Regions from separate parts of the Homo sapiens genome. Here regions 1, 2, 3, 5 and 6 are each linked to region 4. Evidence: fine-mapped expression QTL. A gene starts in region 4. Each other region holds a variant in brackets. All regions are shown on one strand. Distances are from middle to middle. Region 1 overlaps SLC25A27 (solute carrier family 25 member 27). Region 2 overlaps ADGRF5 (adhesion G protein-coupled receptor F5). Region 3 has its middle 19 kb from the start of ANKRD66. Region 4 holds the start of PLA2G7 (phospholipase A2 group VII). Region 5 overlaps RCAN2 (regulator of calcineurin 2). Region 6 overlaps CYP39A1 (cytochrome P450 family 39 subfamily A member 1).

Region 1 (5,078 bases), 55 kb after region 4:
TCCCTCAAAATTGTTTTTGATTTTCTATATGTATTTTAGAATATACTTGTCAACTTCTGCAAAAAAATTTGAAGGCTGCTGGGGTTTTATTAGAATTGCTTTGTAGGTAGAGATCAATTTGACAATAATTAACTTTGGAGCAATACTGAGTCTTTTAATCCATGGACACAGTTCATTGCTCTACTAAAATCTTTAATTTCTCTCAGTAATGTTTTATATTTTTCAGTGAACAAATCTTGTACACATTTGTTAGATTTATCCCTAAGTTTTTAATGTTTTTATGCTATTGTAAATAATATTAATTTTTAAATATTTTAGTCCCTAGTTTTTCATTGCCAGTATACCAAAATATATTTTTGTATATTGGCCTTATATCTTGTGAATTTGCTAGGACTTCATTATTAATTCTTGTAGCTTTTGGTAGATTCCTTGGGATTTTTTTTATATATGTAATTATATCATCTGTGAATAAAGGCAGTTCCATGTCTTCTTTTCTAATATATGTGCCTTTTATTTCCTTTTCTTGCTTTACTGCAATGGCTAAGACCTTCAGTACAGATTAGAATAAAATGGTAAGAATTGATATTGCCTTGTTCCTGATTTAAGGAGAAAGTCTTTCACAAATACGATGTTAGCTACAGGTTTTACTTAGATCCTTTTTATCAAGATGAGGAAGTTTCTTTTTTACTCATGTAAAAATTTGAGAATTTTTACATCAAATACTGTTGAATTTTATCAAATACTTTTTCACATTCTGTTGATATATGTTTTGTTTTGTTCTGTTAATTGGATGAATTATATTGATTTTTTAGGATGTTGAACCAATTTTGTATTCCCAGGATAAGTCTCACTTAGTCATGATGTATTATACTTTATATGATGCTGGATTCAATTTGCTAATATTTTTCACATCTACGTACATGGATTTTTAAATTTTCTGTTTATTGTGGTAAAATATACGTAAAACAAAACTTACCATTGAAACCATTTTAAAGTGTAGAGCTCAGTGGCATTAAATATATTCACATTGTTGTACAACCATTACCACTATCCATTTCCAGATTTTTTTCATCATCCCAAACTGAAACTGTACACACTAAACAACTCCTCATTCCCTCCCCACTATTCGAAACTGTCTTTATGAATTTTCATTATTCTAGTACCTCAAGTAGAATCATGTATGTATTCACTTTTGCCTGGCTTATTTCACTCAGCATAATGTTTTTAAGGTTCATCCATGCTGTAGCATGTATTTCCTTCCTTGTTATTACCTTCTTAACTCAGAACTATATCAGGACAAAACAAAACCCGTGATAACAAGCAATTAGGCACTTTAAAATATTTACTTTTAAAATCAGAATAACACAGTTTATTTACTCACATATATTCCTGTTTGTTACCAGATATTTTCAGCAAACAGACATCTTTAAGCATCTTCATCTGCTTTTATCAAACCTTCAACTGGCTCCTGCTGCTGTTGACAATCACAGCAGCCTGTTGGGGGTAAAGTATGGGGAGAGAAGAAAGTAATGTATTCCTCAAAATTCAGAAATAATAAAACACTTGAGTGGGTAAAATGTTCATGTATATGGCATCAATGAAGGCCAAATAGTGATATAATTTCCATACATGCTTTAAAATCACATATTTATTAACTGTTAGTCAATTATATATTATTTAAAACTATCAAATTCTCAATTTTATGGAATAGCTATTAAACAGATGAAGATGATCCTTAAAATTATGACATGTTTTAAACACACATGATCATTTAAAAACATAATTAAGCATTTAATATGGTAAAAAATTTCATAAAATCAGAAGTGTTATTGACCCAACATAATTATTCTGAAGAAGAGAACAAAATGATTTAATCATGTGTATAAATGTCTTTCTCCCCACTCTCCAAAAAACCCTCTCAATTCAACAGATACCTTCAGAGTGGCTCCTATTTGAAGTTTGTAAGGGATACAAAGATGTGTTACATGGTCCTTGCTTTCAAGCAATACATTTTGTGTAGGGGACGCTGATATGTACATCTATGTAGTAGGGGAAGCAGTGGGAGAAAGGGGGTACTGAAGATACTGAAGGCTTCAGAGAGGAAATAGTAGGTGATTATTTTAGATAACTGAGGTAGAATTTAACCAATACAAATAAAGATGAATAGGTGGTGGTGGTGGGAAGAAAGGTAGATGGAGGGAACAGAATAAACTACATAGAAAAGCAGCAAGTATAGTGCATCTCCAGGGAAATAATTAGAGCAATGCATTTCCAAGGAGGTAGGGTACAGGTATGCAGTGAAAGGTAAAAGTGAGAAAAATGGGCTGGAGTCAGGTTGAGAGGGTCTTGGATATAGCATTAAAGGTTTTAATTTTTAGTATGTGTGTATATAGGAGAAATTGAAGGTGAGAATATGCCCAAAGTTGCCCCATGGAAGACGACTGTGCTTCCCTGTGAAGAATGGATTTCAGGGTGACAGTCCAGACACGTCAGAAGTCTGTATTGTACTTTAAGGTCTGAATAATTTTTCCCCATCTTGAAATATGAGAATATAAACCCAAGCATAAAGAATCCTAATGACATTTTTAAAATTCTATTTTTTTAAACATCACATCAATATGGCTCCCTTTAGGTATACACAGGTTAAGATTCTAGAGTTCAATCACTTCAGCTTTTCTTTTTTTTTTTTTCTTTCACGGACAGAGTCTCCCTCCGTTGCCCAGGCTGGAGTGCAGTGGTGTGATCTCAGTTCACTGCAACCTCTGCCTCCTGGGTTCAAACAATTCTCCTGTCTGAGCCTCCCGAGTAGCTGCGACTACAGGCGCATGCTAATTTTTTGTATTTTAGTAGAGACGAGGGTTTCACTGTGTTGCCCAGGCTGGTCTTGAACTCCTGAGCTCAGGCAGTCCGCCCGCCTTGGCCTACCAAAGTGCTGGGATTACAAGCGTGAGCCACCGCGCCCGTCCCACTTCAGCTTTTAAGGAAATGGGAATTCAGAGAAGTGGAGGGACTT[G/A]ATCCTAGTTATACTCTTCTGTCAGAAGTAGAACCCAAAATAGGATAAAGATCTTTAGATTCTGGGTTCAGTCTTTCTTCCACATTATCTGACATTCAATAATAATATATATTTGCTGGGTAGTCATCTTTAAAGAGTCTCAGTTTAATTGGGAAGAAAAGAATTACTTATTTTCCTTTCCAAAGAAATTGTTTTAACCATCAAGTATTAAAATTGACCATTTTTTCTAGGAAAGTCCTGAAGGAATTTGTTTTCATTAATAGAAAAAATATATGTAATTATAACAACTGTAAATAAATGTGCTTGAAAATTTGAAGATGACTGAATAACAAATCCTTTCATATTTATATTGTCCTGAATTTTTATTTTTTTATTAGCAAAGTAAAAGAGAAATTGCAGACTCATATGATAGTCACAGATTCTTTTTTTTTTTTTTTTTGAGATGGAGTCTCACTCTGTCACCCAGGCTGGAGTGCAGTGGCATGATCTCGGCTCACTGCAAGCTCCGCCTCCTGGGTTCACGCCATTCTCCTGCCTCAGCCTCCCTAGTAGCTGGGACTACAGGCGCCCGCCACCACGCCCCGCTAATTTTTTGTATTTTTAGTAGAGACGGGTTTCATCATGTTAGCCAGGATGGTCTCGATCTCCTGACTTCGTGATCCGCCCACCTCGGTCTCCCGAAATGCTGGGATTACAGGCATGAGCAACCATGCCTGGCCAGTCACAGATTCTTAAAACAATAAAGATAAAATTAATTGATTCATGTTATACGTAGCTGTAATCATTTTTTCTTAATAGCAAAGAAATGCTACTAAAGAGAGCAGAGATTTATATAAAAATGGAAGATGTATACCTACCCACTAGTAGCTTACAATCAAATAGTATTGGGAGCACTTGAAAAAGACATGTTATTCCATATTGAAAGCAAACTTAATAAATGTTATCCCTTTAATTATATATAAATTAATTCATATATAATTTATATCATATATGGCAAATTTAGTCTATAATTATATATACTAATTCATTTATACATATAAAAAACTACATAATTAAAAATAAGTATATGCATTTTCAGTAAGAAAAAAATCATTTGAGAGGAGAAAAAATAGAGAAATACCACATAGAGTAGTACTATAAGTAAGTGAGTTTGGAATTCTTAAGTCTGTGAGTATGGACACAAAAATTACTGAAATTTTTAATCCTTTTTATTTACTGAGGATTATTTTGGAAAACAAGATGATTCCAAGTTGGCAAAAATAAGCAATGTTCCAAAATAATCAGTAGATATGATTTCACCAGAAAATTATGAATGTGATTGGATAAGTATTGGGTATACTGGATTTGGTTAGGTTATAGAAGGTCTTCATGTTCAAGCTAAAGCATGGTGACTCCATTCTAAAATGTATGCTAGAGACAATTCAGATTCATCTAAAATGTATGAGACATAAAAATGCCATAAGGAAAAATCTGTTTTTAGAAGACTCTACTGGGTTGTGACCATGACATAAGACCCTTCCTTGGTACCTAATTAGTGAACAATAACTCTCAGTCATAATAATCATATTAGGAGAACTGTGTTTTTATCCTGGCTCTGCTACTAAGTCACTCATGAGCATAAACAACTCTACTTCTCTGAATCTCAGTTTACTAACATGTGAAATGGGAAGGTTAAATTAGATAATCCCAAGGAGTCATTTCAGGTTAAAAGTTCCTGAAATTCGTGTTGATCCAGATCCCAAGGAATGATGTCAGTGCGTAAGCAGTGTTTTCATCCCAACTCCCCGACCCCACAAAGAATAAAGCTAAATCAATTGTTCACGGTCCAGGTTGGATGCAATTATTTTGATCCAGTCTTTACTTAATTTTAAAAATTACAAAACATAAAAACAAACAAAATTTTCCCTAAGTGGTTCAATGCAGAACACTTGGGAAGTTAAGCATATATATATATATATATATATATATATATATATAATATTTTACAACGCAATTACATATTGACAAATTCAATGAAAAAGTAGACCATCTAAATATTTTAAGAGATTAAACTTCACATTCTCTG
Region 2 (5,078 bases), 120 kb before region 4:
GGGAGAGCAGTGGACAGCAGGAAAGATGTATCTCCACTTCCCAGGTCCAAGCAATTCTCCTGCTTCAGCCTCCCAAGTAGCTGGGATTACAGGCATTTTGGGAGGCCGAGGCGGATGGATCACCTGAGATCAGGAGTTCAAAACCAGCCTGGCCAACATGGTGAAACCCCATCTCTACTAAAAATATAGGCTTAAGATTTAAAATAAAATAAAATAAAATAAAATAAAATAGTAAATATCCCTGCCAGCCTGCTGAATTGGCCTTAGAGAGTAGGGTGTGTAGTGGGTGTGACTCTCACTGTCACCATTGCTAAATGCTTACTGGCATCTTTCAGTCTTGGGGACCCATCCTTTGCTAAACTCTGCCATAAGAAGGTCATACATCCCCACTGCCTGTGATGTCTCATTTTTGTTTTCTCATTTCCTCTTACCTTTATGCAATCAGTTTCTAGGAAGATGTTGTTTTTTTCTTTTTTATGATTGAAAGAATTTGGTTAGTTTGACCCCATACCATTTCACTTTCAGCACGTGCTCTCTACGGTTAATGTCATCCTTGGCAAGCCCGTCTTGAACACCTGGAAGGTTTTACAACAGCAATGGACCAATCAGAGTTCACAGCTACTACATTCAGTGGAAAGATTTTCCCAAGCATTACAGTCGGGAGATAGCCCTCCTTTGTCCTTCTCCCAAACTAATGTGCAGATGAGCAGCATGGTAATCAAGTCCAGCCACCCAGAAACCTATCAACAGAGGTTTGTTTTCCCATACTTTGACCTCTGGGGCAATGTGGTCATTGACAAGAGCTATCTAGAAAACTTGCAGTCGGATTCGTCTATTGTCACCATGGCTTTCCCAACTCTCCAAGCCATCCTTGCCCAGGATATCCAGGAAAATAACTTTGCAGAGAGCTTAGTGATGACAACCACTGTCAGCCACAATACAACTATGCCATTCAGGATTTCAATGACTTTTAAGAACAATAGCCCTTCAGGCGGCGAAACGAAGTGTGTCTTCTGGAACTTCAGGCTTGCCAACAACACAGGGGGGTGGGACAGCAGTGGGTGCTATGTAGAAGAAGGTGATGGGGACAATGTCACCTGTATCTGTGACCACCTAACATCATTCTCCATCCTCATGTCCCCTGACTCCCCAGATCCTAGTTCTCTCCTGGGAATACTCCTGGATATTATTTCTTATGTTGGGGTGGGCTTTTCCATCTTGAGCTTGGCAGCCTGTCTAGTTGTGGAAGCTGTGGTGTGGAAATCGGTGACCAAGAACCGGACTTCTTATATGCGCCACACCTGCATAGTGAATATCGCTGCCTCCCTTCTGGTCGCCAACACCTGGTTCATTGTGGTCGCTGCCATCCAGGACAATCGCTACATACTCTGCAAGACAGCCTGTGTGGCTGCCACCTTCTTCATCCACTTCTTCTACCTCAGCGTCTTCTTCTGGATGCTGACACTGGGCCTCATGCTGTTCTATCGCCTGGTTTTCATTCTGCATGAAACAAGCAGGTCCACTCAGAAAGCCATTGCCTTCTGTCTTGGCTATGGCTGCCCACTTGCCATCTCGGTCATCACGCTGGGAGCCACCCAGCCCCGGGAAGTCTATACGAGGAAGAATGTCTGTTGGCTCAACTGGGAGGACACCAAGGCCCTGCTGGCTTTCGCCATCCCAGCACTGATCATTGTGGTGGTGAACATAACCATCACTATTGTGGTCATCACCAAGATCCTGAGGCCTTCCATTGGAGACAAGCCATGCAAGCAGGAGAAGAGCAGCCTGTTTCAGATCAGCAAGAGCATTGGGGTCCTCACACCACTCTTGGGCCTCACTTGGGGTTTTGGTCTCACCACTGTGTTCCCAGGGACCAACCTTGTGTTCCATATCATATTTGCCATCCTCAATGTCTTCCAGGTGAGTTTTACAGTGCGGAGCTTTCAGGAAGATTTTATTCCTGT[A/G]GGACAAATTAATGATAGAAACACAAACAAGAGTAGGAATGGGGAAGGATTTCAGCCCAGAGGAAGCCTCAGCTCTAAAGAGCAGTAATAATGAGAACTCAATCAGATGGAAAGGACACATTCTTCTGATCCTATGGCACCTCATGCTTTTTATCACCTACATTATAATTTAGTGTCATTTGCCAGTCTCTGCTAAATACACTGATTACACTAGTAAAAGGAAAATCCCCATTTGTCTAAGATTATCTTGATGTAGTCTATTATCTCCTAAATGAAAATCCTGTCTTTGTGAGGACAGGGATTGCCCCTTTCTTGTTCATCACTATACCTCTATGCCTGATAGAGACCTTGGTACAGAGTAGGTTCTCAATAATCATTTGAATGAAATAAATCCTATGTACCACATAGCAGCTTCTCTGGAAACATCAAAAATCAGAGAATGAATGTCCTGTGAATGCCAGACAATCTGCTTGATTATACTACAATGAAAAAACATCTTCTTCGCTCTCCTGCAGCACATAACTAACTACAGTGCAGGCCAGTTTGTTAGAAGAACTATAACAGAGGTATAGATAGCAAGCCTTTAAAGTACAAGGAAGGAAGTGATTAATTCTGTTTCACCCAATGGAGAGGTGGTAAGGATAGAAAAAAACTTGCCCAAGGATTGAGGCCACTGTAAACTTGTGAAGAGGCAGAGGCTGGAGGCACACTCGAGATACTGCTTTCAGGATGCTTGTGCCAAGAACATATGAACCTTGATTTCTGCTACTGGGCCTGTGTCTCCAAGCTATGTAGTTCATATGTAATGACCTTCATGATATGCCTCATTTGGAAGGAACTAGTTATCCCACCCCATAGCCCAGATTCTTATCACAGCTATGTAAAGAATATTGTAGACACAAGAGGTGTATTAATAGCATAACCAACAGGACCTCCAGTTTTCAACTAAAGGAAAATTGGAAAATAGAAAATATCTTCCTAACATCATAACATTTAGAGTCCCTTGGTGTGGACCAAATGCCTGTCTTTGAACAGTATCATGTACTGGACTCATTCCATAAACTCAGAAGGAAAAAGAAGTAGTACAAATTTAACACCAGGTTAACAGTACTTCCTCCTTTGCTGGACAATAGACTATAATTAAAATGCACTTCTTTTCAATCTTTTTTTTCTCAGGGATTATTCATTTTACTCTTTGGATGCCTCTGGGATCTGAAGGTAAGAGCAATGACAGTTTCATGTTTCTAGAAAAGTCTGAAGTGCTTGTGGCATGTTGAAGTTACGATAGCTTCTTTTTAACAATGCAGGTACAGGAAGCTTTGCTGAATAAGTTTTCATTGTCGAGATGGTCTTCACAGCACTCAAAGGTAAACTTTTTCTCTGCAGAGACTTTTCATTTTATAACATCATGTATTCCACTAGCATTCTGAAGTACAGAGTACTAAATTTTTTCTTTGGGATTTTGATCAATTAGGCTAAATATATTGCATCCTCAAACCTGTCTCCCTCAACAGCTGTATTTGGCATAGATCATTCCATTGTTTTTGCTTCTCAAGTCATTCTGTCTATTAAATAGAGCCATAGAGCTGTCATTGAGATGCTACTCCACATATTTAAATAGGTTTTAAAATAATATATGATATAAACTTAAGGTTGAAATCAAACGTTCAATGAGAAGCAATCTTCTGGGGGGATTCAAGGCATTAGAGAAAACAAGTTGAAGAATAATAATGGATAGAATTTTCTGTAGTTCATTTTGGAACACAACTATTGCCCTTGGATATATCTGACTGCCTTTCACATGTCAGAAAATGCTAGAAGCCTAACAAACAATAAAACTTGTATTTGACAGTTATTTTTCTAATACAGATGATAAGATTCCAGTATTTTAATGTGACCTCTGGGAGTGGGACTAGAGATTCCGGCAGTGACCACTAGAGGGTGGAAAATCAATCCTTCTAGAGATGGAAACAGCTTTGGTCCCACAAATTTGCTTTGTGATTGTCCCTTTTTTTCTCTCTTCTAGTCAACATCCCTGGGTTCATCCACACCTGTGTTTTCTATGAGTTCTCCAATATCAAGGAGATTTAACAATTTGTTTGGTAAAACAGGTGAGTAGTGGCCTCCAGTTTCTCCCTGCTTGTCCAGAACACATTTGCTCAAATGGGGAGCCTCAACACCCCTACTCTTTCACCCCGCTCATGGCATTTACCTGAAATGTCCTCTTTTGGGGTAGAGGTTAAATAGAGGAACTTACATTTTCACAAATCACCAAAAAGTGGGTACAGAGGGCAGCTGCCTTTGCTAAGCAACTTATAATAACTCATAAAGAATAAGATTTGGAGAATCTAGACAATGATTTGGAGAGCTATCTGTCAAAATATCATCCATCAAAATGAGAACTGTAAATTGCTGGCCTTGTCAAACACAGAGTTCTTCTCAAATTATGTTAGATAAGAGTAGATAGGTCATGTTTCAGGGTTATGGGGCAGCAAAGAATACATTTAGAAAATCTTACTACAGGATCTCACTATGTAGGTTTGTTTTCCTTTTTTGTTCTTTTTATAAAGTGTGCTTGTGTTACACATTGAAGCGTATAGAACTGTGCATGCATTACGTAAGGGATCACCCAAGTTAGCTATTCTATTAGAAATATTACCTCTCTGAACTCACTTCCTCATTTATAAAATAGGGTAATAATTATGACTTCATAGAGTTGTAAGAATTAAATAAGCAAATATACATAAAGTGCTTAGTATGGTACATGGATTATAGTAATTACTCGGCATTCGTGATGACGCCGATAGTGGTAGTGGTGGTGGTGCTGCTGATACTTCAGTCAACCCTGCTATTATTGATTCAACTGGCAAAGGCCACAGTATCTCACTGAAAAAAAAATATTCACAGTTAAATTTCTACATTGGAGATATGAAATGAATGGAATTAATAACTTTGGGCAACAGACCTCAGCTATTCTAGCAAATTGAAACCCCTGTCCCCATGCCATCATCCCTTCCTCACAGGAAAATAAGCCCCAGGATTTCTTCTAGCTTTTTGGAACTGAACAGATCTCACAAATGCAGAGTTGAGAAATGCATCAATATTCCAGATGAA
Region 3 (5,078 bases), 30 kb before region 4:
CTATTGACTATCTTTGTGGGGATCTATTTCTTGACTTTGTATTCTGTTTCATAAATCTATGTATCTATATTTTTGCCAACATCACACTATCTTGATTATTATTATAAGCCTTGAAATCAGGTAGTGTGCATCCTTGAACAGTGTTCTTTTTCTAAATTGTTTTGACTATTCCGGCTCTTTTACGTTTCTTCATAAGTTTTAGAATCAGCTTGACAATTTCTAAGAAAAAGTCCTTCTGGTATTTGGATTGGGATTGTATTGAATTTATACAGCAGTTTGGGAAGAACTGACATCTTAACAATATTGAGTCTTCTAGTCAATGAGCATTTGTATCTCTCCACTTATTTAGATCTTTGATTTTTCATCAGTTTTATAATTTTCAGCATACTAACCTTGCTCATATTTAAATTTATCTCTAAGTATTTCATGTAGTTTGGGTACTATTATAAATGGCATTTTATGCATTTTGTCAATTACCAGTAGTGCATTTGCTAATATATAGAAATGAGGACTGACTTTAATTATATTGAACTTGTGTCCTGCAACCTTGCTGGTTTCACTTACTAGTTCTAGTAGCTCTCTTTTCTGATTATTTGGAATTTTCTAAATAAACAATTGTGTCATCCATGAACAGAGATTATTTTAGTCTCTTTTTATTCAGCTTTTTTTTTCTTATCTTATTGCACAAGCTAGAACCTCCAGTATAATGTGGAATAGGAATGGAGAAAAGAACATCCTTGTCCTGTTCCCAATATTAGGGAGAAAACATTCAGTCTTTTACCACTCACTACAGTAGCTATGGTTCTCCTGATAGATGAGATGAAGTAGGTTTTTCTAGTTTTCTGAGTGTTTTTATTTTATTTTACTAAATTTTCTCAGATGCTTCTCTCATGTCTCATGTGGTTTCTTTTCTCTAGTCTGTTGATAGACTAAATAGAGAATTACAAGGAGTGATTATTGAATGTTCAACCAGTCTGGCATTCGTGGGGTAAAAAATACTACCTAGCCATGGTGTATTATCTTTTTATATATTGATGGATTTGATTTGTTGCATTTTGTTAAATATTTTTGTACCTGTGTTCATGAGAAATATTGGCCTGTAGTTTTCTTGTGATGTTTGCGTCTGGTTTTGTTATCAGGGTAATACTGGCTTCATAACAAGTGTTAGAAGCATTCCTCCCTCTTCTATTTTCTGGAAGGATTGATATAAAATTGGTATTGTATTTTCCTTAAATGGTTGGTAGAATTTGCCAGTAAAGCTACTTGGGCCTGAAGTTTTCCATCTTGGATTATTTTTAACTAGAATTTGAATTTTTTAAAATAGATAATTTTTTATGAGTAAACTTTGACAAATTATGTCTTTCAATGTATTTTCCCATTTCCGATAAGTTGTCAAATTGTAGGCATCAAGTTTTTCATAGTATTATTTTGCTACTTTTAATATCTATAGATTTCTCCATTTTTATTAATCAAAAATTTTATCAAATTTGTAGTCACCATAATCAGATTACCATAAAAGAACGAGGGTTATCTCACTGGATTGATGTAATTCTAGACCTAAGCAAAAAATTAGATGTTTGGCTTATTAAGGTCAGTCTTCCCTATTAAGAACCATTGATTTATGTTGGTCATTTTGAACTATTATTCTTTTAAGGTCATCACTGGTGTATTTGCAACCCAGTGGCCCAAATAGTTCTAGCAGTTATTTTTCCAGATGTTTTTGGGATTTTCTAAGTAGACATCATGTCAACTGTGAAAACAATATAAAAAAGAAAATTGAGATCAGAAATTTTAAGTAGTTTTCCCAGAAACATTCCAGATGCAGGTTGAGAACTAAGGGAATTCATCTAAATCCAAAAAAGGCAGCATTGGAGAATATAAAATAATGAGCTAAAAAAAATCAAGCACAGCAGCTATAGTTTGCAATCTTTCATTAATAATTTATTGATTGGCTGGGTATGGTGGCTCACACCTGTAATCCCAACACTTTGGGATGCTGAGGGGGGTGCAGATGACTTGAGGTCAGGAGTTCAAGACCAACCTGGCCAACATGGTGAAAACCCATCTCTACTAAAAATACAAAAATTAGCCAGGTGTGGTGGTGCACACCTGAAGTCTGAGCTACTTAGGAGGCTGAGGCAGGAGAATATCTTGAATCTGAGAGTCAGAGGTTGCAGTGAGCCAAGCTCATGCCACTGCACTCCAGCCTGGGCAATAGAGGGAGACTGTCTCAAAAAAAATAAAAAATAAAAATAAACTATTGGTTGATTTCAGACAAATAACTTTATTAAACTTGCATTTCTCTATCTGTAAAAACCCTTACTTAAGTATGACATTTTGAAGAGATTGATACAAAATACCTGGCATGCACATGGCTGATGCTCAGTAAAAAGAAGCTTCTACTATTTGTCACTGCAACCACTTCAGTAACTTGAGTTAAAATTCAACTTGAGCCACTTTCGAAAGGCCAGGCTTGGAAAACAAAAAGGTCAAGTTTCTCCAGGTTGCTGAGAAAACCATCCTTAACTTCTTAAATACTTTAGCTTAGGTTCAATGAGGATTTTATTTGGTTTTTTCAGTTTTAGGGGAAAAAAAATTATTCCTCACCCTTATCTAGAAAATACTCGATGACTCAATCTCAGTCAAGAAATGTATATTGAGCATGACATGGGACTACCTAGGCCCATTGGGAGAAACAAAAGAAGTATATGCAGAGCCCTTGCTTTTTAGAGATCTTAAAGAAGACCCAAACTCAGAGGAAAGTGGTATCTATGAATCAATCAAGAAAAGGAAACTATCTCATTAGAAGTTTATTTCGAACCCGAAGCAGGACTAAATAGAGTGGGCCTTGTACTCTGAGTGGCTTTCTGGTGGAGGTAGACCCTGAAGAAGGAATAGGATTTGGAGAAGCAGGAGGGAAGACAGAGGGTGTCTAGCAGAGATGACAGGAGCCAGGGCTCAGAGCAGACAGGCAGTGTAGCACGCGGACGTGAGGCCAGGCTGTGGAGCTTAAGTCCAAGTTCCAGCTCTG[T/C]CCTCTGCTGGTTGTGTGACTTGGGCAGATTACCTAACCTTATGAACCCCTATGTCCTCATTTAAAATAACAACTAACTCAAAAACTTGTTGAGTAGACATGGTAACATGTTTGGAACAGCACACAGGGTAGGTATCAGTAGGCAGTGAGCAGCCCAGCTTGGCAGGCACCAGGGGTGTACAAAGCGGAGTATTAGGAAATGAAATTAGATTGGAGAATTGGGATCAGAAAAAAATGTATATAATTATTCATAATTTTTATTATTAACTTTTTTTTAAAGAAATCTGTCTTTTCTCTGAAAATTGTAGCCTTATGTTTTAGTATTGTTCTTGATCGAGGTGGGTTTTTTTTTGTTGTTTGTTGTTGTTGTTGTTGTTGTTTTGGGACCGAGTCTCCCTCTGTCACCCAGACTGGAGTGCAGTGGCACAATTTCTATTCACTGCAACCTCTGCCTCCCAGGTTCAAGCGATTCTTCTGCCTCAGCCTTTCAAGTAGCTGGGACAACAGGCACGCACCACCACACCCAGCTAGTTTTTGTATTTTTAGTAGGGACAGGGTTTCACCATATTGGCCAGGCTGGTCTTGAACTCCTGACCTCATGCTCCGCCCACCTTCACCTCGAAAGTGTTGGGAATACAGGCGTGAGCCACCGCGCCCGGCCGATCGAGGTTGTTTTAAGGGTCTCCTTCTTGAGAGATTTTAAAATCCACATTGTAGTCACTTTATCTTCTAAATTTTTCTCCTCTTCACTTAATAATGTGGAGGGTGGAAAGCAGGAGTCAAGATATCATTGTCTCCCAAATCAGTGTTGCAATATTATAAGAAGATGAACTGAATCAATCATTTTAAGTGTTACAGAAAAATTTAGCGTGAAATATGTGATCTGGTTAAATTGGTTTTTGTTAGATGCTTTTTTTGTTTTACTTATAATGTTTCTCTTCAGGAACTTTTAAAATAACATTGCCTGCCAAGGGAGTATATGAGACAGAAACAGAAAATAAAAGGTTGTTAATTCCGAAGTTCAAGGATTAAGGTCTGAAAACTGATAAGAAAAAATTTTAACAATGTTTTTGGCTGAAATCAGGGTATTTGTGATTCTCTCCCAAGGAATGACCAATAAGGGGTATTGTTAAGCAAAATAGATCCCACCAATCTTTTTGATAATATAAGTACTAAACAATAACATTGTTGCCTGCATTTTTAATGTTTCTAACTAGCTGCTTTTATTTCATGGAGACATACCCTGAATGCAGTGTTCTGTGGTACAGTTCTTAGAATCCACAGTAAAGGTTGGTTTTTAAAAATAAGATATAAAAATCTTCCCATGGACAAGAAAGTATTTCCATATAATTCAGTCACTGGCCAAAGTAAACATGTAAATGCTACGCAGAAGAGCCCTGGACATACATAGTGCTACTCACCCTCTTGGTAATATAATGGAAGTAGCTCAGAGCCAAGAGTCAGTAGCTTCTGAATTAGTTTGCTAGGGTTACCATAACAAAGTATCACACACTGGGTATGACACACTGGGTCGCTTAAACCAGAAATTCATTGTTTCATCATAGTTCTGGCAGTTAGAGATTCAAAAATCAAGGTGTTGGCAGGGCTGTTTCCTTCTGAGGGCTGTGAGGGAAGGATCTGCTGCAGAACTCTCTCCTTGGTGTGTAGATGGCCATCTTTTCCCTGTGTCTCTTCACATCCTCTTTCCTCAGTTAGTGTCTCCTTCCATAAGGATAGCAATCATCCTGGGTTAGAGGCCCACTCAACTCCACTCCACTTAATTAATTACACCCCCAGTGACCCTATTTTCAAATAAGGCCACTTTCCGAGGAACTGAAAATTAGGACCTCACATATAAATTTAGGGGGGGAAACAATTCAACCCTTAACAGCTTTGATTTCTCATTTATAAAGGCATCTTCTAATATTTTGATTGTAACTTTCTAAATTTTCTTTTAGCAAGCATTTATAATTACTGATCTAAGAAATAGATATCCAAAGTTGAATAAAGTGCCCTCAGGAGCACACAGTCTACTCAGGCCTTATTT
Region 4 (5,078 bases):
TGTATTGAACCCTATTTTTCCCTCCAGACTTCCTACTGCAATCAGGATGGGTTGCTTCCTAGCCTCCACACTGCTGCCATTCTGGGACCTCTCCTGCTTATCTCGGTTGGAGCCACTTTTCTTTGGGTCCCAGACAGTGAGGTGTCCTTGACTCCCACATCTTTCTCAGGATAATTAAATAACTCACCTTGCTGAACTCCCACAGTCCTCTGTATTTGCCTAATAGGGTAGCACTTTTTGTTGTTATTTCCTTATCCTCCAGGGAAGGACTGTGTCTTATTCATCCTTGAAATGGTACCTGACATACAGCTGGCCCTCACCTCAGTAAACACTATTCAAATTTAAAAAAAAACGTTGAGCGCATGGCAAGGCACAGTGGCTCACACCTGTAACCCTGGCACTTTGAGAGGCTGAGGCAGGAAGATCGCTTGAGCCTAGGAGTTCAAGACCAACCTGGGCAACATAGTGAGACACTGTCTCTACAAAAAATAAAAATAAAAAATTTAGCCAGGTGTGGTGATATGTGTCTGTGATCCTAGCTACTTGGGAAGCTGAGGTAGGAGGATTGCTTGAGCCTGGGAGGTAAAGGCGGCAGTGAGCTGTGATCATGCCACTGCACTTCAGCCTGAGTGACAGAGTGAGACCATATCTCCAGAAAAGAAAAAAAAAAGAAAGAAAGAAAAGAAAAGAAAAAGAAATTGAGCACATTATTACAATTTAATATCTTGATTGAAGGGAAGAGGTGAGACATCAGTTTCATTCATATTAAAGAGGAAATAGGTACTGTTATGTCAATGGGAAATGAGAGGAGGAATTAAATGTAGGAAACAGAATAACAAAGAACCAACTCATAAAAAACTAAAACAACCCATATCAGACACACCTTATAATCTGTATGTCTGTGTTGACTTATCCTCTTGGAATGTGAGGAATATTCTTTATTAATTTTACTTACTGGGTTGCCAGATATAATACAGGAAGCCCAGTTAAATCTGAATTTCAGATAAACAACAAATAACTTTTTAGTATATGTCCCAAATATTGCATGGGGCATATTTATACTAAAAAACTATTTATTGTTTATCTGACATTCAAATTTCACCAGATGTTCTGCATTTTTATTTGCTAAATCTGGGCACTCTTCACTGGGCATCTTCTCAGGGCACTAACCTGCCAAATGCCAACTGCTGTGGGGCTGCTCAGAGAATATGACCTAATGACAATGGGAGATGACATGTTGCTGGCAATGAGAGAAGTGAATAAAATGTTGCATACTTGTTTTCAGGAGCTGTTCTCAAAGCTTACCACCTTTTTAGTGTGGGATTAGGTCTTCAACTTCAACTTTGTCTTCACCTTTGTCTTAAGGTCAAAAGAAGACGTTAGAGATGTCTTTGGTAGGGCATAATGTATCCTTTTAGATTGATATTTGTGGGCCATTTGTTTTACAGGGGGTTAGTCCAGGAAGTACAAGACAATGTCATTAGGCGGATAGAGTTCCATTTAAATTAAAAATAAAATCTATTGTTAGGTTTAAATGAGTCACTGCTTCATTAAGCTATCAATATTAGATAACACATATTGAATGAATGTTTCCCATAGGCCAAGCTCTGTCCCAAGCATTTCACATGTATTTGCATTTCGTGCTCACAAACTGCCTCTGACTGACTGATTTTGATTTTCTTGATTTTATGGATGAGGAGACCGAGAAGCAGAGATGATGAACTTCCCCAAGGTCACACCACTCATAAGTGGGAGAAACAAGCTAAAATTCAGGCCATCTTACTGCAGAATACTCAAAATCAAAATAAGCAAAATTTCATCTCCAGTTCTGGCACCTCACCAAAAACCAAAACACGATTTAAAAATATAAAATTTTAATAACACCACACATAAATTTCAAACTACTTTCCCTAAGTTTCTAGCTGAAGTTTTAAATGAGTGTGTTTTTAATTTATTAGAAAGTGGATTGAAGAGAAAACATTGGAAGATGAAGGAAGGCGTTTCAGTTAAACCCCAAATAACTCTGTGTTACACTGAGCTATGAAACGGCTCCTTCTAGCTCCATTTCTCCTCAGACCTAAGTGCTATTCCTGATTGTCCTTCATTGTCATTTCCAGGGAGAAATGACACCAGCACAGTGGCAGGCCTTCCAATCTGGAGCACGGTCCACACAACTTCCGAATTGGTGTTCAGTGTAAAGTGTATCGGAGTGCGGAAAATGCGCAGGGCATTGCCAACTATAGATGCTCGGAGTAATTCAGTGTATTCAGAGAACACGGTGAAACAAGGAAAACCGGCCTGACTGGGGGGTGAATTCAGCAGGGAGTAAATCTGATCGGCATCAGGTCTGCGGAAAGGAGCTGGTGAGCACGACACCACCCAGGCATTGCCTGGCTCTCTCCGCGGCGGGCTAAGTTAACCGCGGGTCCAGGTGCGGGCCATGGTCTTGGGGAGGGTGCTGGGTGCGCTCGAGCAGGCTAGCGTCGGGAGCCGCCGCTGCTAGTGAGAGGCCGGGGCCACACACGCTCCTCCCCGGTACCTCCTCCAGCATCACCAGGGGAGGAGAGGGTCGGGGCCACAAGGCCGCGCTAGGCGGACCCAGGACACAGCCCGCGCGCAGCCCACCCGCCCGCCGCCTGCCAGAGCTGCTCGGCCCGCAGCCAGGGGGACAGCGGCTGGTCGGAGGCTCGCAGTGCTGTCGGCGAGAAGCAGTCGGGTTTGGAGCGCTTGGGTCGCGTTGGTGCGCGGTGGAACGCGCCCAGGGACCCCAGTTCCCGCGAGCAGCTCCGCGCCGCGCCTGAGTGAGGAGGGGCCCCGGGGGCGAGGCGGGAGTGGGAGGAAGGGCACGGTCGCCGCGCTGGAGGTCGGGACCCCGGAGCGGCGACCGGCCGGGGTGGGCTCGCTGAGTCGCACCCGCTCTGCTGGCCGGTCCTGGGCTCACAGTCCCTGCAGCCCTCGGAAACAGCGCTAGGATCCTTGCGGGGAGAGGGAGAGGATGACGGTATTAGACACCAGTTCTTCCAAACCTTTTCCCGAAAGGAAGCAACCCTAAGAGCTCAGAGCTGGGGGGAGAATCAGGACAGGCAGGGAACACATGGAGTTTTCTTTTCTTTTTTTTCTCTCTCTCTCTCTTTCTTTCGTTCCTTCTTTCTTTCTTTTGAGGCGGAGTCTCATTTTGTCGCCAGGCTGGAGTGCAGAGGCGCGATCTCGACTCACTGCAACCTCTGTCTCCCGGGTTCAAGCAATTCTCCTGCCTCAACTTCCCGAGTAGCTGGGACTGCTGGCGTGCCGTATCACGCTCGGCTAATTTTTTTGAATTTTTAGTAGAGACGGGGTTTCGCTGTGTTCGCCACAATGGTCTCGATCTCCTGACCTCGTGATTCGCCCGCCTCCGCCTCCCAAAATGCTGGGATTACAGGCATGAGCCACCGCGCCCGCCCCGGAGTTTTCTTATCTGTAGATCTCCTACAGGGACAATCTCTCTCTCCGTCTCTCTCTCTCTCTCTCTCTCTCTCTCTCTCTCTCTCTCTCTCTCTCTCTCTCTCTCTCTCTCTCTCTCTCTCTCACACACACACACACCACTACACACCTCTCACTCTGCCTCCTCTCTCTCTCTCCCTCCGCTCTCTCTCTCACACACCCTTCTCCCTCTCTCCCTCTCTCTCACTCTCCCTTTGAGGAGTATTGCGTTTTTGGAGCCCAGTTATGCGTGGCTGCTGTAAGAACAAAACAAAGCACTCTTTGTCCTACCTGGAGCATCCCCCTGCCGGCCAGATAAGATCACAGCTGTGTCACCAAGTCAAGGGAGAGGCTCATTTTTAAAAAATTAAGCAAAATCAGAAAACAGAGAACACTGTCTTCCTCATCATCTCCTGGAGCTTGTAAGAGAAATTTCTGTCACCAAAAACGAAAAGTTCGGGCTTTTATTCATGCCTGTGGTTCTTGGGATTACTGCAGTGGTGATGAGGAAGGAGAGGTGCGTATGGCTCATAAATGGCAGCTTGCCACCTTTAAAAGGCACACGGATTCAGATTTGGGATGTGTTAACAAATCAGGCTTGCACAAATTACTTTTGATCCAAATGAGAATGCTGAGCTGGGAGACTGGTATATGGGTAGGAGCTGGAAAATGTATCCCCTGAGGTGTTGGCAATCCCAAGAGGCTCAGCACGAAACCTTGAGCTTACATTGAATTCAGAGATCTGAGCATTAAGCACTGGCCTGATCAAGAAGAAGCAGATGGCCTTCTGGTCACGAGGCACTGGTGAGCCTCCATCACCCAGGCAGATTCCCTCACAGAGGAATTCTGCTGGCCCTGCAGAAAGTGGTGAGACAGCGCACCACCTTGGCATTTTCCAGCAGGCCTACTTCAGCTCCTTGCACTTGGGCACTGAAAGTGCTTTCCCCTCCCCAGATATTTGTGCACCAGAAGCTGCTGCTGGCCATGTGGTGATGTCTCAATGTCTTTCTTCATTGAACTGGGCCCTTCATACCCAAGGCTGGCACCATAGTCTGTGACTGCCTACTGTACAGCCAGCAAGACTGAAGGAGTTGCAGCATTAGGAGTGTTGTGAATCTGGTTCAGCCACTCATTTTACAGTTGAGAAATCCCTTCTGAGGTGTGGAAGGGCTTGCTTAGCACCGCAGGACTTTTCCCTCAGACAGAACCTGGGACAGCTGGGTCCTCATTTCCTCTCCATTGTGTCTCTGTCCCCTTTGCACTTTTGTTGTGAGGAACATACATGGGCCTAAACACATTCCCTCACTCTCACCTTTGCACATGAATATGACTTACCACACTCTTTGAAGCTCTGTCAGCACAGAACATTAAGAAAAGTGCTAACTGGGTACCTGAGCAGCTGGAGTGGGAGCCCCTGGGAAAGTCAGTTTAGGAGTCCCCTTTATCTTCCTTTTCCTGATACCCAAGAAGATGGCTATTTCCTGGAAAGGAAGGTGGATATTGGATTATTTACACTCTGATTCCTCTTAAGCCTAATTTTTTTTCAAGATTCGTGATAATAAGCCTGACTGACGTCTCAAGATGTTGAGAAATTTCCATAAAATAAAAGCATTGAAGAG
Region 5 (5,078 bases), 280 kb after region 4:
ATATTTTTACTATTAAAACAATTGATACTCTAATAAATGACGGTAATTAGGTGTTTTATGCTAAAATATTCAAGCAACAGTATAAATAAATATGAAAGAAAATACATGCACATGTTTCATTGAAGTTGTCTAGCAGTTCAATTCCCTTTATATTAATGCTATTACATGTTTTTCCTTCTAGTTAAAAATATTCATATATTTTAGATTATTTAATAAAACATGTACCATATTTTTATTTAAAATAAGTATTTTGTTGATTTAAATATGGAAATGCGCTAATTGGAGTTTGAAGAACTTTGGAGTGCAAGAATTGTTTTATTATATTTTATATAGAAATTTTTACTTACCACAATTTTGATGATTTGATTTTAGAGATATCACCTCAAACTATTTAATTTTTGGCTCCTACCTCAACCGGGCTTAAGATTTTATATGTAATGCATTATTGCCAGAAAATGCTGCTTACCAACTCTCATTGGGGCTTTTCTAGGAAAAATGAAAATAAAAAACATAACCTCATCACTATGAGGTTCAAGGGTTTATTTCACAGTTCAAGAGAGAGATAAGCAGAAACTGATATTTTGTCTGGGGATCTGGAATTTGTATCTAGCTAAACTTCATGAGAGCAGATTGATGTTTAGTGGTACCCACCTTTCTGTCCTTTGCTCTGAGCATCTGTGATGATGGGACTGAAGAACATGGAGCTTCCTGAAGATGATTCAGTAGCCATGTCATAATTTTCAGTCAGTCTTACTTGCGTAACCATGAGCAAGTTATTTCACTTTCCGAGCCTCTTAACTATTGAGCTTTGAGCAGAATAGTATCACAGTCATGAAAATCGGTACAAAAGAAGAAAGTAGATACCAGCCTTGGACTATATGGGGATACTGACCTAATCCACTAAATTATGTACCAGTATCAAAAAAATGGAAAAACTCTGCAGTTAGGCAAACTGCAAATATAAGGGGTGAAAAAATAATAGAAGGGTTGAACACAGCTAGGTGAAATCAATACTGGAAAGCCTTACAAGGCAAGGAGGGACGGGGACCTGTGCACCATGGATTGATCAAGATAGCACTGATTTTTTTAGGATCTGGACCTGGTTCACAAATGACTTGAAGTAATTATCTCAGTCAGAAGAGGAAATATCTGGGAGGTGTGTGTGTGTGGTGTGTTTACTCTCACTGTACTCTCACAGGATGAACTATTACCTGTTAGAGTTATCATGATCAGGATTCAGGTGCTGATGAAGTAGATCATACTTTCTTAAATATAGGCTTCTACTTATTTTGATCTGCTTCATTCCTGTGGCATAGGAGAGTGAGCTCTGGTGCCAGTTTCCCTGAGTTTGAATCCTAGCCCTGCCATTTTGTCAGTGGTCTTGTAAAAGTTACTTAATTGCTTTCTTCCTGTTTTCCCATCTGTAAATTGGGGAAAATATTGGTACCAACCTTATAGACTATTGTGGAGATTAAATAAGGTAGTTAATGTATGTAATTGATGTTCTAAATTTATATAAATCATTTAGAATAGTGCCTGGAACTCAATACACGATAGACATTGGTAGTAGTGGTGGTGATCTCCATTTCCTATACCTATTTGTTTGTCTGTTTGTTTTAAAAAACCATAGTACTGACTCGGTTCTTGCCCCAGAGCAGAGCTGTATGGGAAATTCTGGTTCAGGGATCAAGGGAACCATGTGAACTTGCAGATCTTCTCCCTTCCAATATCCCCTGCCTCTGCTCCTAATCGTACTCCACTGTTCTGCCCCTGACAATACAAAACTGTGACCCGAAAACTGAGTTTTAAGGAATTTGTTCTGCAGTAACACATGCTCATCTTTGTATCCCCAGGAATGAGGGGAGAATCATACTTCATCGGAATGAGGAGCCCAGGGCAGCAGGGACACGTCCCTGAAGATGGAGGACTTTTCTTACTGTGCTGCATAGACAGGGACTGGGCTGTCACTCGTTGTTTTGCAGAAGAAGCCTTTCAAGCAATCACTGACTTCAATGACCTCCCCAACTCGTTGTTTGCGTGCAATGTTCACCAGTCAGTGTTTGAAGGAGAAGAGAGCAAGGTAAGCTGCCTTTTTCTGTTCCTAAAACATGGGGAGATATGGCATTATCTCCAAGTAATCCTGTTGTTCATTTGTGGTTGGTGTTTTGAAGTTTTTGGAAATGTTTAGTTGGCTCTATTTTTGGCATGTGTACCAGGATAAGAAAATCCCATTCTATTATCAACTAACTTTAGAGATACATCTGACAGGGTTGTAGATGAGAATATGTTGAATCAAATTGAGTCCTCTGTGACTCACAGGTCTATCTAGCAAAACAAATGGTGTTAATATGGATTGTAGGAAATGCCCCTTAGGCTAGGAAGCAGATGTCTTAAACTCCTAAAAGTTTCCTTTTCCTCTATTCTGCCATAAATATAATTTGCCTTTCTCAAAACAATACAAACTCCATTTTACCTCCAGCCTTCCCGCAGCTTGACGAATGTTCTAAAAAAGCCTTCTTAAACTGTGAGCCAAGTCTCACAGTAGATATTAGAGAAGGTAAGTTGGTTGGCATCTGAGTCCTTCTTTGCTCATTGATACCATGGTGGTATTGCCATGTGTGTGTTGTAAGAATTTGAATGAAGCAGCAACTCCTCAATTTGAAATGATAGGGGAATGAGGTTGTCTATGTATTAACATTTTCCAGCTTCCCATTTTAAGAAACAGACTTAACTTAGTGTAAATGTTTTTGGCAATCACAGTAAATATTCCATTTGGAGACCTTTCCAAAGTTTATTTCAGATTTCTCTGACCTTTGAATGGGGTATCTAAATGGATTAAACCTTCCCTTGTAGATGTAGATTCTTAGTTGTAAAAGCCACTATTATACTACTGAAACATGGACAAAATTTTTTGGATAAAGGGCCTTTTTTTTTTCTTTTTCTTTTTCTTTCTTTCTTTCTTTCTTTTTTTTTTTTTAAC[G/A]GAATCTCGCTCTGTTGCCCAGGCTGGAGTGCAGTGGTGCAATCTCGGCTCACTGCCAGCTCCACCTCCTTGGGTTCACGCCATTCTCCTGCTTCAGCCTCCTGAGTAGCTGGGACTACAGGCGCCCATCACCACGCCCAGCTAATTTTTTGTATTTTTAGTAGAGATGGGGTTTCACTGTGTTAGCCAGGATGGTCTCGATCTCCTGACCTCGTAATCTGCCTGCCTCGGCCTCCCAAAGTGTTGGGATTACAGGTGTGAGCCACTGCGCCCGGCTGAGGCTTTTTTTTTTCTAAACTAAAGTATATGACTCTGTGTGAGGTATAAGAGTAGGCTTTATGGTTGCTGTTTCACAGACTTTAGCTCTTTCTGCCCATTGCTGAAGTCTGTGTCTGGCATAATTACTGGAAGTCTGATTTACGGATATGATTGATTTTGTAGACAATCCTGATAGCCACAGACAAAACCATCCCAGAGGATTAGGAATTATTTTAAGCCATTTAAAGATATTTTTATAATGATATCAGTGTGGAGTTGAACTGTTGAAATTATGGGCTGAAAATAGCTTGAAATACAAGGAATTATATATAATTAGAACCTCCAGTGCTATGATCATCAGACTATTTAAAGTAAGAAAGTGGCACATGCCAATTTCTTCTTTGGAAGAAACTGAGAATTTTGTTCTTGGATTATAACCAGATTATCACAAATGATAATTTTCTCAGGGCAAGTAGTTTCCTCTGAAATATACCTGCCATAAACTATAAAGCAACAGTCTATGTATTCTCATCATATCATCCATTTCTCTAAATATCACAATTAGAAGGATTTTCCTTAGAGATTTAATGAGGGTTTTCATTCTTTCCTGATTAAATACTTCCCAGTAGACTGAAACAATGAGGCCTAGGAAGGTGCTAATCTCATTTAGCAGTGCTGCTCAAGAATGGCTGATTAACTGAATTAGAACTGAGGACATAGAAGGACAGGGGCTGGAGGGGGGAGTTCATGGGAGTCTGTACACATCTATTTTGATATTCTGATTTGTGATTGAATAAAGGATTACAAGATATTCTCATCTAATGTGTATACGAAGTTTGTGCATAGCAGTTTGGGAAATAGTATTTGGTTTTAGGATGACCTTGATAAAATATTGAGGCAAAATAAACAAGAATATAGTTAATTGCACTCAGTTTCAAATGATTTAGATCACCATTTTACAGCCATGGAGGTGAATTTTATAATTGGCTGAAGTCTATGTAATTCAGTTTATTAAATCAGAAAGTGTCCTACCTCAGCAAGATTTTTTTTTCTTTTTTTACTCTTCCTTTTGTGGACAGTCTTTAGGATACCAAATAATCTGACATGGATTTAATTTTGACTTAATTATATCTATATAGTTTAAGGTGACAAAACAAGATAATCAGATACCAGATAAGTTGACAATAGCCAGGAGGCATGATTGCTGGGACTCCAGAAAAAAAAGTGGGGAGTCTTGTGGCATCTCATTTTCACTGCATATTTCTCTTCCAGACCCAGAAATTCATATTTCTTTCATTTAACCTCCTTTTTAAAAAACTATTATGATAAAATCACTTATTTTAAGACATTAAGTATCATACTCCATTCTGTCAGAATATTCTTTCCACAAGGTTTAGGTTTCGTGAATCTGAGCCATGAAGTCTGATGATGGGTATTTTCCACAAAGGGTGGACATTTTAGGCACTGTGATAAGTTGGTGGGGAGATATTTTTAGGCAGGGGGAAAAGAAGCAAAAAGCATTTCCAGCACTCCTTGTATTGGCCTATGGGCAAGGCTGGCCATGGTAATTGTTTTTATATTTGGCTTTGGGAAGATGTATTCAGCAGCCTGGAATTATAGCAGGGGGTGGAGACATCAGAAATGATGCTTAGCCTTCATTTCCAAGGTTTACGAGGGTCGGTGGTTTCATATGTAATTTGTTTTGGCAGAGTCTTTTCTTTTTTGGCACAGCCTGCTTCTGAAATCATTGTGTCTTGATATTGATGCATTTAAGTTTAGCCTTTGTCTTGCAATTATTATAAAGTATACATTTAACTTCCATAGTTGGGTAGGAATTAAA
Region 6 (5,078 bases), 140 kb after region 4:
AGGCTTTATTTCAGTGGGGCAAGTGAAGAGTTCTGTGTAGGCCAGTGTTGCTTTGAGATGCCTTTTAGACCTGCAAACAAAGCCAATGAGAAGCCAGCTGGATAACAATAATCTGGAGCTCACAAAAGGGATGAAGGCAAAAAATGTTATTGTGGGTGTCACTAGCCCACTGATGGTATTTTATAGAAAAGGGTTTGTTTGAGTCCCCCAGGAGGATAATGTAGAGAAGAGAAGAGGGCCCAGAACTGACACCTGGCAGTCTTGGGGTACATTCAGAAGTTGGATAGCGGGAAAGATACCTCCTGTCATCTCTGGATTCATCTGGTATGAGCAGACTGGAACCTCAGTGGAACACCCTTGGAAGAGAGGGTGGATCCATTACCAAACCGCCAAGAACCAGTGCGACAGCTTGTTCTGATCTGCATCTACAGTTGATTGACCTAGTCACTTGCTACACCAGACTCTATTTCACACTGAATTCCTGTTATCTGAACATGCTCTTTATTTTTGTGTATCTGATTTTTTCTTCAGATTTTTTTCTTCTGAAAAGCCTCTCTGACACCTCCCTCCCCCGTCTGGTCACTGTCACCGCTGTGCTCCTATAGCGAGTTGCACACTTTAATGTGATAGCGCTTATTGCATTAACCACTTTTAGTTCTCTGTCTTCTCTATCAGACTATTCAGAGCCAGAGACATGACCTACATCTTCATACTCAGCACTTGCAAACTACCTGTAGGGTCTCAGTCTCTGCAGATATCTACTGAACAAATAATGGAAGGAATTCCTCAGACCTGGCCCCCAATTCGTGTTGCATATGCAACCCCACACGCCAATCTCTAAATTTTCTCCCAATAAAGGTTTCAGGAAAAAGAATAACTTTATTAGCTATGGAGTAAAAGTAGATAGGAAGGTGTGGTTTCTAAAGAGTCATTATTAAATTCGCATTAATAGTAACGGTAATAATAAATAAAAAGTAAATCAGCACCACCTTGTACTGAACACTTAGTACATACCGGGCACTGCTCTAAGTTTGTGTGTCATTCATAAACTAATTCAAAAATTAGAACCTCAGGATTTCTCATTTTAACATTGTCTAGACAAAGCACTTATTCTTTCTTTAATTTTTCATCTTATAGTCTTTTTGATGGTAAAGATCTCCAAAACTTAAATTTCTTATATTTCCTTAGCACTTTATTCTCCAGTGAATGCCAAACATTTGTCTATTTGATTTAGCAATGATATCTGTTACATATGCAAAATCTCAGCCACTTTTCAAATAAAGAATTCTGACCATGGCTTTTCTAAATTATTTTTCCGAATTAGTTTAGAAAATGTTGGGATAGTTTGGGGAAAATGTAAACTAAGTAAAATGTATGGTACCCCTGTCTTTCCATGGTGTATCAAGACAGTTTTCAGTTGGTGATCATGTTTTAGTTCTTAATAACTACTCATAGATTATGCCATGTGCACGAAAGTTTATGCCATGTGCTAGTAATCTTCAGACATTAAAAATAGGGTTGGTTTGCTTTTTCGGAGGATTGCCTTGGAAATAATCTGTATCCTAATTTATATAGCTAGTTATCTTTTATGTAGCTAATGATTTGCTTGTATGGATATTGGTAGAAGACAGATTCCATGTTACAAAAAGTTTGAGAATAACAGTGTAAATAACTGTTTTATTGCAGGATTTCTCAAAGCCTGTAATACACTAATGTGTCCAGTGAATCACCAATAACATGTAGCATTTTTCGTATTTGGTTGCCCATGAACCTTTTTCCTCCTTCATACGTTTGACATCTTGCAAATATTTCATAGAACACAATTTGGAAAAACTGTGGCATTTAGGTTGTGAAGATGCAGAAGGCATACTTATTGTTTTCCAATCTTTGTTACGGAAAAGGAAAACCAACAGTTTTGTTGGGCAATGCCTGCAGAGATTACAACAAAAATCCCATAAAAGTGCTTATCTCCTTTTAATATTAGATTGCTCAGATCTGAGCAAATAAGCCGAAGGTCTTAATTTAATACAGAATAGTGCTGTATATCACTGTTTCATTGTTGAGGTGTTAACACTCCCTCAGCCTAAGACAGGAAGTTTCCAATTTCTCTAGCCTCCGGATGTTCCAGAATGGCATTTAGGATCGTCTGTAGTATGGCCTTAGTGGATCTCTCACTGTTCCATCACATATGTCTCACCTTCTGGGCAAACTGGACCCATTGCCATTTTCTAAATGTACTCATGTTGTCTGCAGTCTTACTTTTGTTCTTCCTCTTTGCCTAAAATATCCACCCATTCACCTCCCTATGTTGAAGTTGGACCATTTGCTAATTTAATATATATATACTGGGGTTGACTCTATGCAAGAAACTAATCATATTTGTAGTTTTAGAGAAATATATTCATAAAATATTTTCTTTTTCATCTAGTTGGATGTGAACCCTATCTGCTTTAAACTACCTTAGCTGTGAACCCTATCTGCTTTTAACTACCTTAGAATATTTTACATCTTAGAAAATAGTTTCTTTGCCTACATGTTGTACTAGTCAACTGTGTGCTTGTCTCTTACCTCCTAGTAGACTAAGTGTATTGCAAGCAAGAGCTGCGCCTTAGTTATTGTAATACTGGTACAGCCTGTCTCAGCTCCTGGTCCCTACGTGGTACTTAAGAATCTGTCAGATTGAATGGAGTTCATAGGTTCCTAGACTCCACTAACCAAAGGTGTTTGCTTCTGACTCCTTAGGAATTCTATCTATACTGACAGAAAAGGTTTCCCAGGCAGCACCCAATAAACCTTTTCCTGCAAAATGGGCTTGCTTTTGAA[C/A]ACGCCTCATCCAGAGTCAAAGAGAGACATGGCTGGAGACCCTAGTTCTACTCTTACCCACTCATTCCCAAGATGGTCTGAAAGCAAATGTGAAAAAGAGAAATGCGTTGACTTAATTAAACTGACAATATTGTTGTTGACTTTTCTTAAGCAAATACTGTCAAAAACAAATTGAAAGCGCAGTTGTTTCAAGTAATTTTCAAAATGCAAACATTTTACTTGAAATATTGTTAACTAAACTGTCTAATTTGACTGAAAGTTCCTGCCATTACTTTAGATGGTACAAAGGTTGATGGTTGATGCCCTTCGTCCACCCCACCCCCTCCTTTTTCAGGTGCTTTCAGTCTAAAGATCAAATAAAGTATGCACATCACGTTAAGAAAGTTTGATGCACCTGTGTTTAGAGGGCATCTTCATTCTTCCAGCTCAGATACTTGTGCCCCATTGCCCCTTTTCCAGTTGTTTTTTTGAAATGAATGATTTAGGGGGAAAAAAAAAAGCAATTCAAAAGGGTAAAGGCAGAAGAAAAAGGCCGGATGGCTTCTCGTATCTTTTTCTTTGTGCTTTTGATGTCAGTCTTTTATTGCTTTTTACATAAGTGGAATGAGAATTTAGACAAGAAAAAGATGAGTAAAACCTTTCTGACAAGGACTGTCTTAGCTATTTGATAGCTATAAGACTGTGGGAACCTAAGTTGGATACCAATCCATCACATTACAGTAATCAACATTGGCTTAGTTTTTTGTGTCATACATTTTACCTTGTCAAGAGAAAAGTGATAAAGAAAAAGAGGCAATTAATGACTAAACCTGTAATAGGTAATAGTAATAGGAACACTTTACTTGCTGTCAGAGGCAACATCTAACCTCTGCTGATGAGCTTACGTGAAATCACTTTCTGACCTCTGTAGTCTATTTATTTCTCATTAAAAATTTTTTTACAGGCAAAGATAAGATTAAAGTGTCTGAGGATGACCTGGAGAATCTCCTTCTAATTAAATGGTGTGTTTTGGAAACCATTCGTTTAAAAGCTCCTGGTGTCATTACTAGAAAAGTGGTGAAGCCTGTGGAAATTTTGGTAAGCTTTGGTTTGGTTTTAAATGAATCAACCTTCTACAAAAAAAGTACACATTTTGCCCACATATATTTTTCAGGTTGACATATCTTGATTTATTTTTACTTGACAAATAAATATTTTATATATTTGTCTTGTACAACATGTGGTTTTGAAATATGTATACATTATGGAATGGCTAAATCAAACTAATTAAAATATGCATCACTTCACTTGCTTATCAGTTTTCTGTGTAAGAAGACTAAAAATCTATTCTCTTGGTAATTTTCAGGAAAACAATATGTCATTACTAGGAATAGTCACCATGTTATACAATAGACCTCTTGAACTTACTCCTCCTGTCTAACTGAAGTTTTGTATCCTTTGACTAATATCTCTCCAGGTCCTCCTCCACCCCTTCTTTACCCTTCAATCCCCGGTAACTACCATTCTACTCTATTTCTGAGCTCACTTTTTTTAGATTCAACATATAAGTGAAAATACACTTATATGTGGTTTGTCATTCTTCCTGGCTTGTTTCACTTAACAAAATGTTTTCTAGTTTCATTCATGTTGTCACAAATGAGAGCATTTCCTTCTTTTTAAAGGTTAAATAGTATTCCATTATGTATATATACATTTTATAAACATGGGAGTGCAGATATGTCTTCAACATACTGATTTCATTTCCTTTAGATATGTACCCAGTAGTGGGATTGCTAGATCATATAGTAGTTCTATTTTTAATTTTTTGAGGAACCTTCATACTGTTTACCATATGGCTATACTAATTTACATTCCCACCGATAGTGTGCAAGTGTTCCCTTTTCTCTACATCCTCTTCCACAATTATCTTTCATCTTTATGATATAGCCATTCTACAGGAGCAAGGTGATAGATCCTTGTGTTTTTAATTTATATTTTCTTGATGATTAGTAATGTTGAGCATTTTTTTATACCTGTTGGCCATTTGTATGCCTTCTTTTGAGAAATGTCTATTCAGATTCCTTGCCAATTTTTAAAAATCATTTTTTTTGTTTTTGTTTTTTACTAGTGAGTTGTTTAAGTTTCTTGTATATTTTGGATATTAACCTCTTGTCAGATGTATGGCCTGCAAAAATTTTCCCCCATTAGGTTGTCTCTTCATTCTGTTGACTGTTTCTTTGGCTATACATAAGCTTTTTAGTTTAATGTAATCCCAT

What was found. PIP is the estimated chance that this variant, and not a neighbour inherited with it, causes the effect.
Region 1: its variant is the best candidate, but not a certain one, in a credible set for the expression of PLA2G7 in cerebellum (GTEx, PIP 0.77).
Region 2: its variant is the best candidate, but not a certain one, in a credible set for the expression of PLA2G7 in whole blood (INTERVAL, PIP 0.75).
Region 3: its variant is the best candidate, but not a certain one, in a credible set for the expression of PLA2G7 in whole blood (TOPMed, PIP 0.62).
Region 5: its variant is the best candidate, but not a certain one, in a credible set for the expression of PLA2G7 in whole blood (INTERVAL, PIP 0.81).
Region 6: its variant is the best candidate, but not a certain one, in a credible set for the expression of PLA2G7 in whole blood (INTERVAL, PIP 0.68).

The regions. Positions count from the first base shown.
Region 1 is chr6:46,677,943-46,683,020 of GRCh38, reverse strand. SLC25A27 (solute carrier family 25 member 27) reads right to left here. Exons shown (of 9, transcript NM_004277.5): 9 at 4,831-5,078. The region is part of intron 1 of TDRD6-AS1 (TDRD6 and SLC25A27 antisense RNA 1); the gene reads left to right. It also overlaps a transcript of TDRD6 not described here. Among named protein-coding and RNA genes, the nearest start is that of TDRD6, 7.4 kb to the left of the region's middle. The variant G/A (reference allele first, on the strand shown) is at 3,014.
Region 2 is chr6:46,854,971-46,860,048 of GRCh38, reverse strand. It overlaps ADGRF5 (adhesion G protein-coupled receptor F5), which reads left to right. Exons shown (of 21, transcript NM_001098518.2): 17 at 526-1,920; 18 at 3,141-3,182; 19 at 3,272-3,331; 20 at 3,991-4,075. Among named protein-coding and RNA genes, the nearest start is that of ADGRF5-AS1, 46 kb to the left of the region's middle. The variant A/G (reference allele first, on the strand shown) is at 1,965.
Region 3 is chr6:46,763,074-46,768,151 of GRCh38, reverse strand. No RefSeq gene overlaps it. Among named protein-coding and RNA genes, the nearest start is that of ANKRD66, 19 kb to the right of the region's middle. The variant T/C (reference allele first, on the strand shown) is at 3,032.
Region 4 is chr6:46,732,903-46,737,980 of GRCh38, reverse strand. It overlaps PLA2G7 (phospholipase A2 group VII), which reads left to right and starts at 2,606. Exons shown (of 12, transcript NM_005084.4): 1 at 2,606-2,801.
Region 5 is chr6:46,453,754-46,458,831 of GRCh38, reverse strand. It overlaps RCAN2 (regulator of calcineurin 2), which reads left to right. Exons shown (of 5, transcript NM_001251974.2): 2 at 1,854-2,080. The coding sequence starts at 1,856. Among named protein-coding and RNA genes, the nearest start is that of RCAN2, 35 kb to the left of the region's middle. RefSeq lists an enhancer at 1-359. The variant G/A (reference allele first, on the strand shown) is at 2,981.
Region 6 is chr6:46,594,809-46,599,886 of GRCh38, reverse strand. CYP39A1 (cytochrome P450 family 39 subfamily A member 1) reads left to right here. Exons shown (of 12, transcript NM_016593.5): 8 at 3,767-3,900. Among named protein-coding and RNA genes, the nearest start is that of CYP39A1, 55 kb to the left of the region's middle. The variant C/A (reference allele first, on the strand shown) is at 2,824.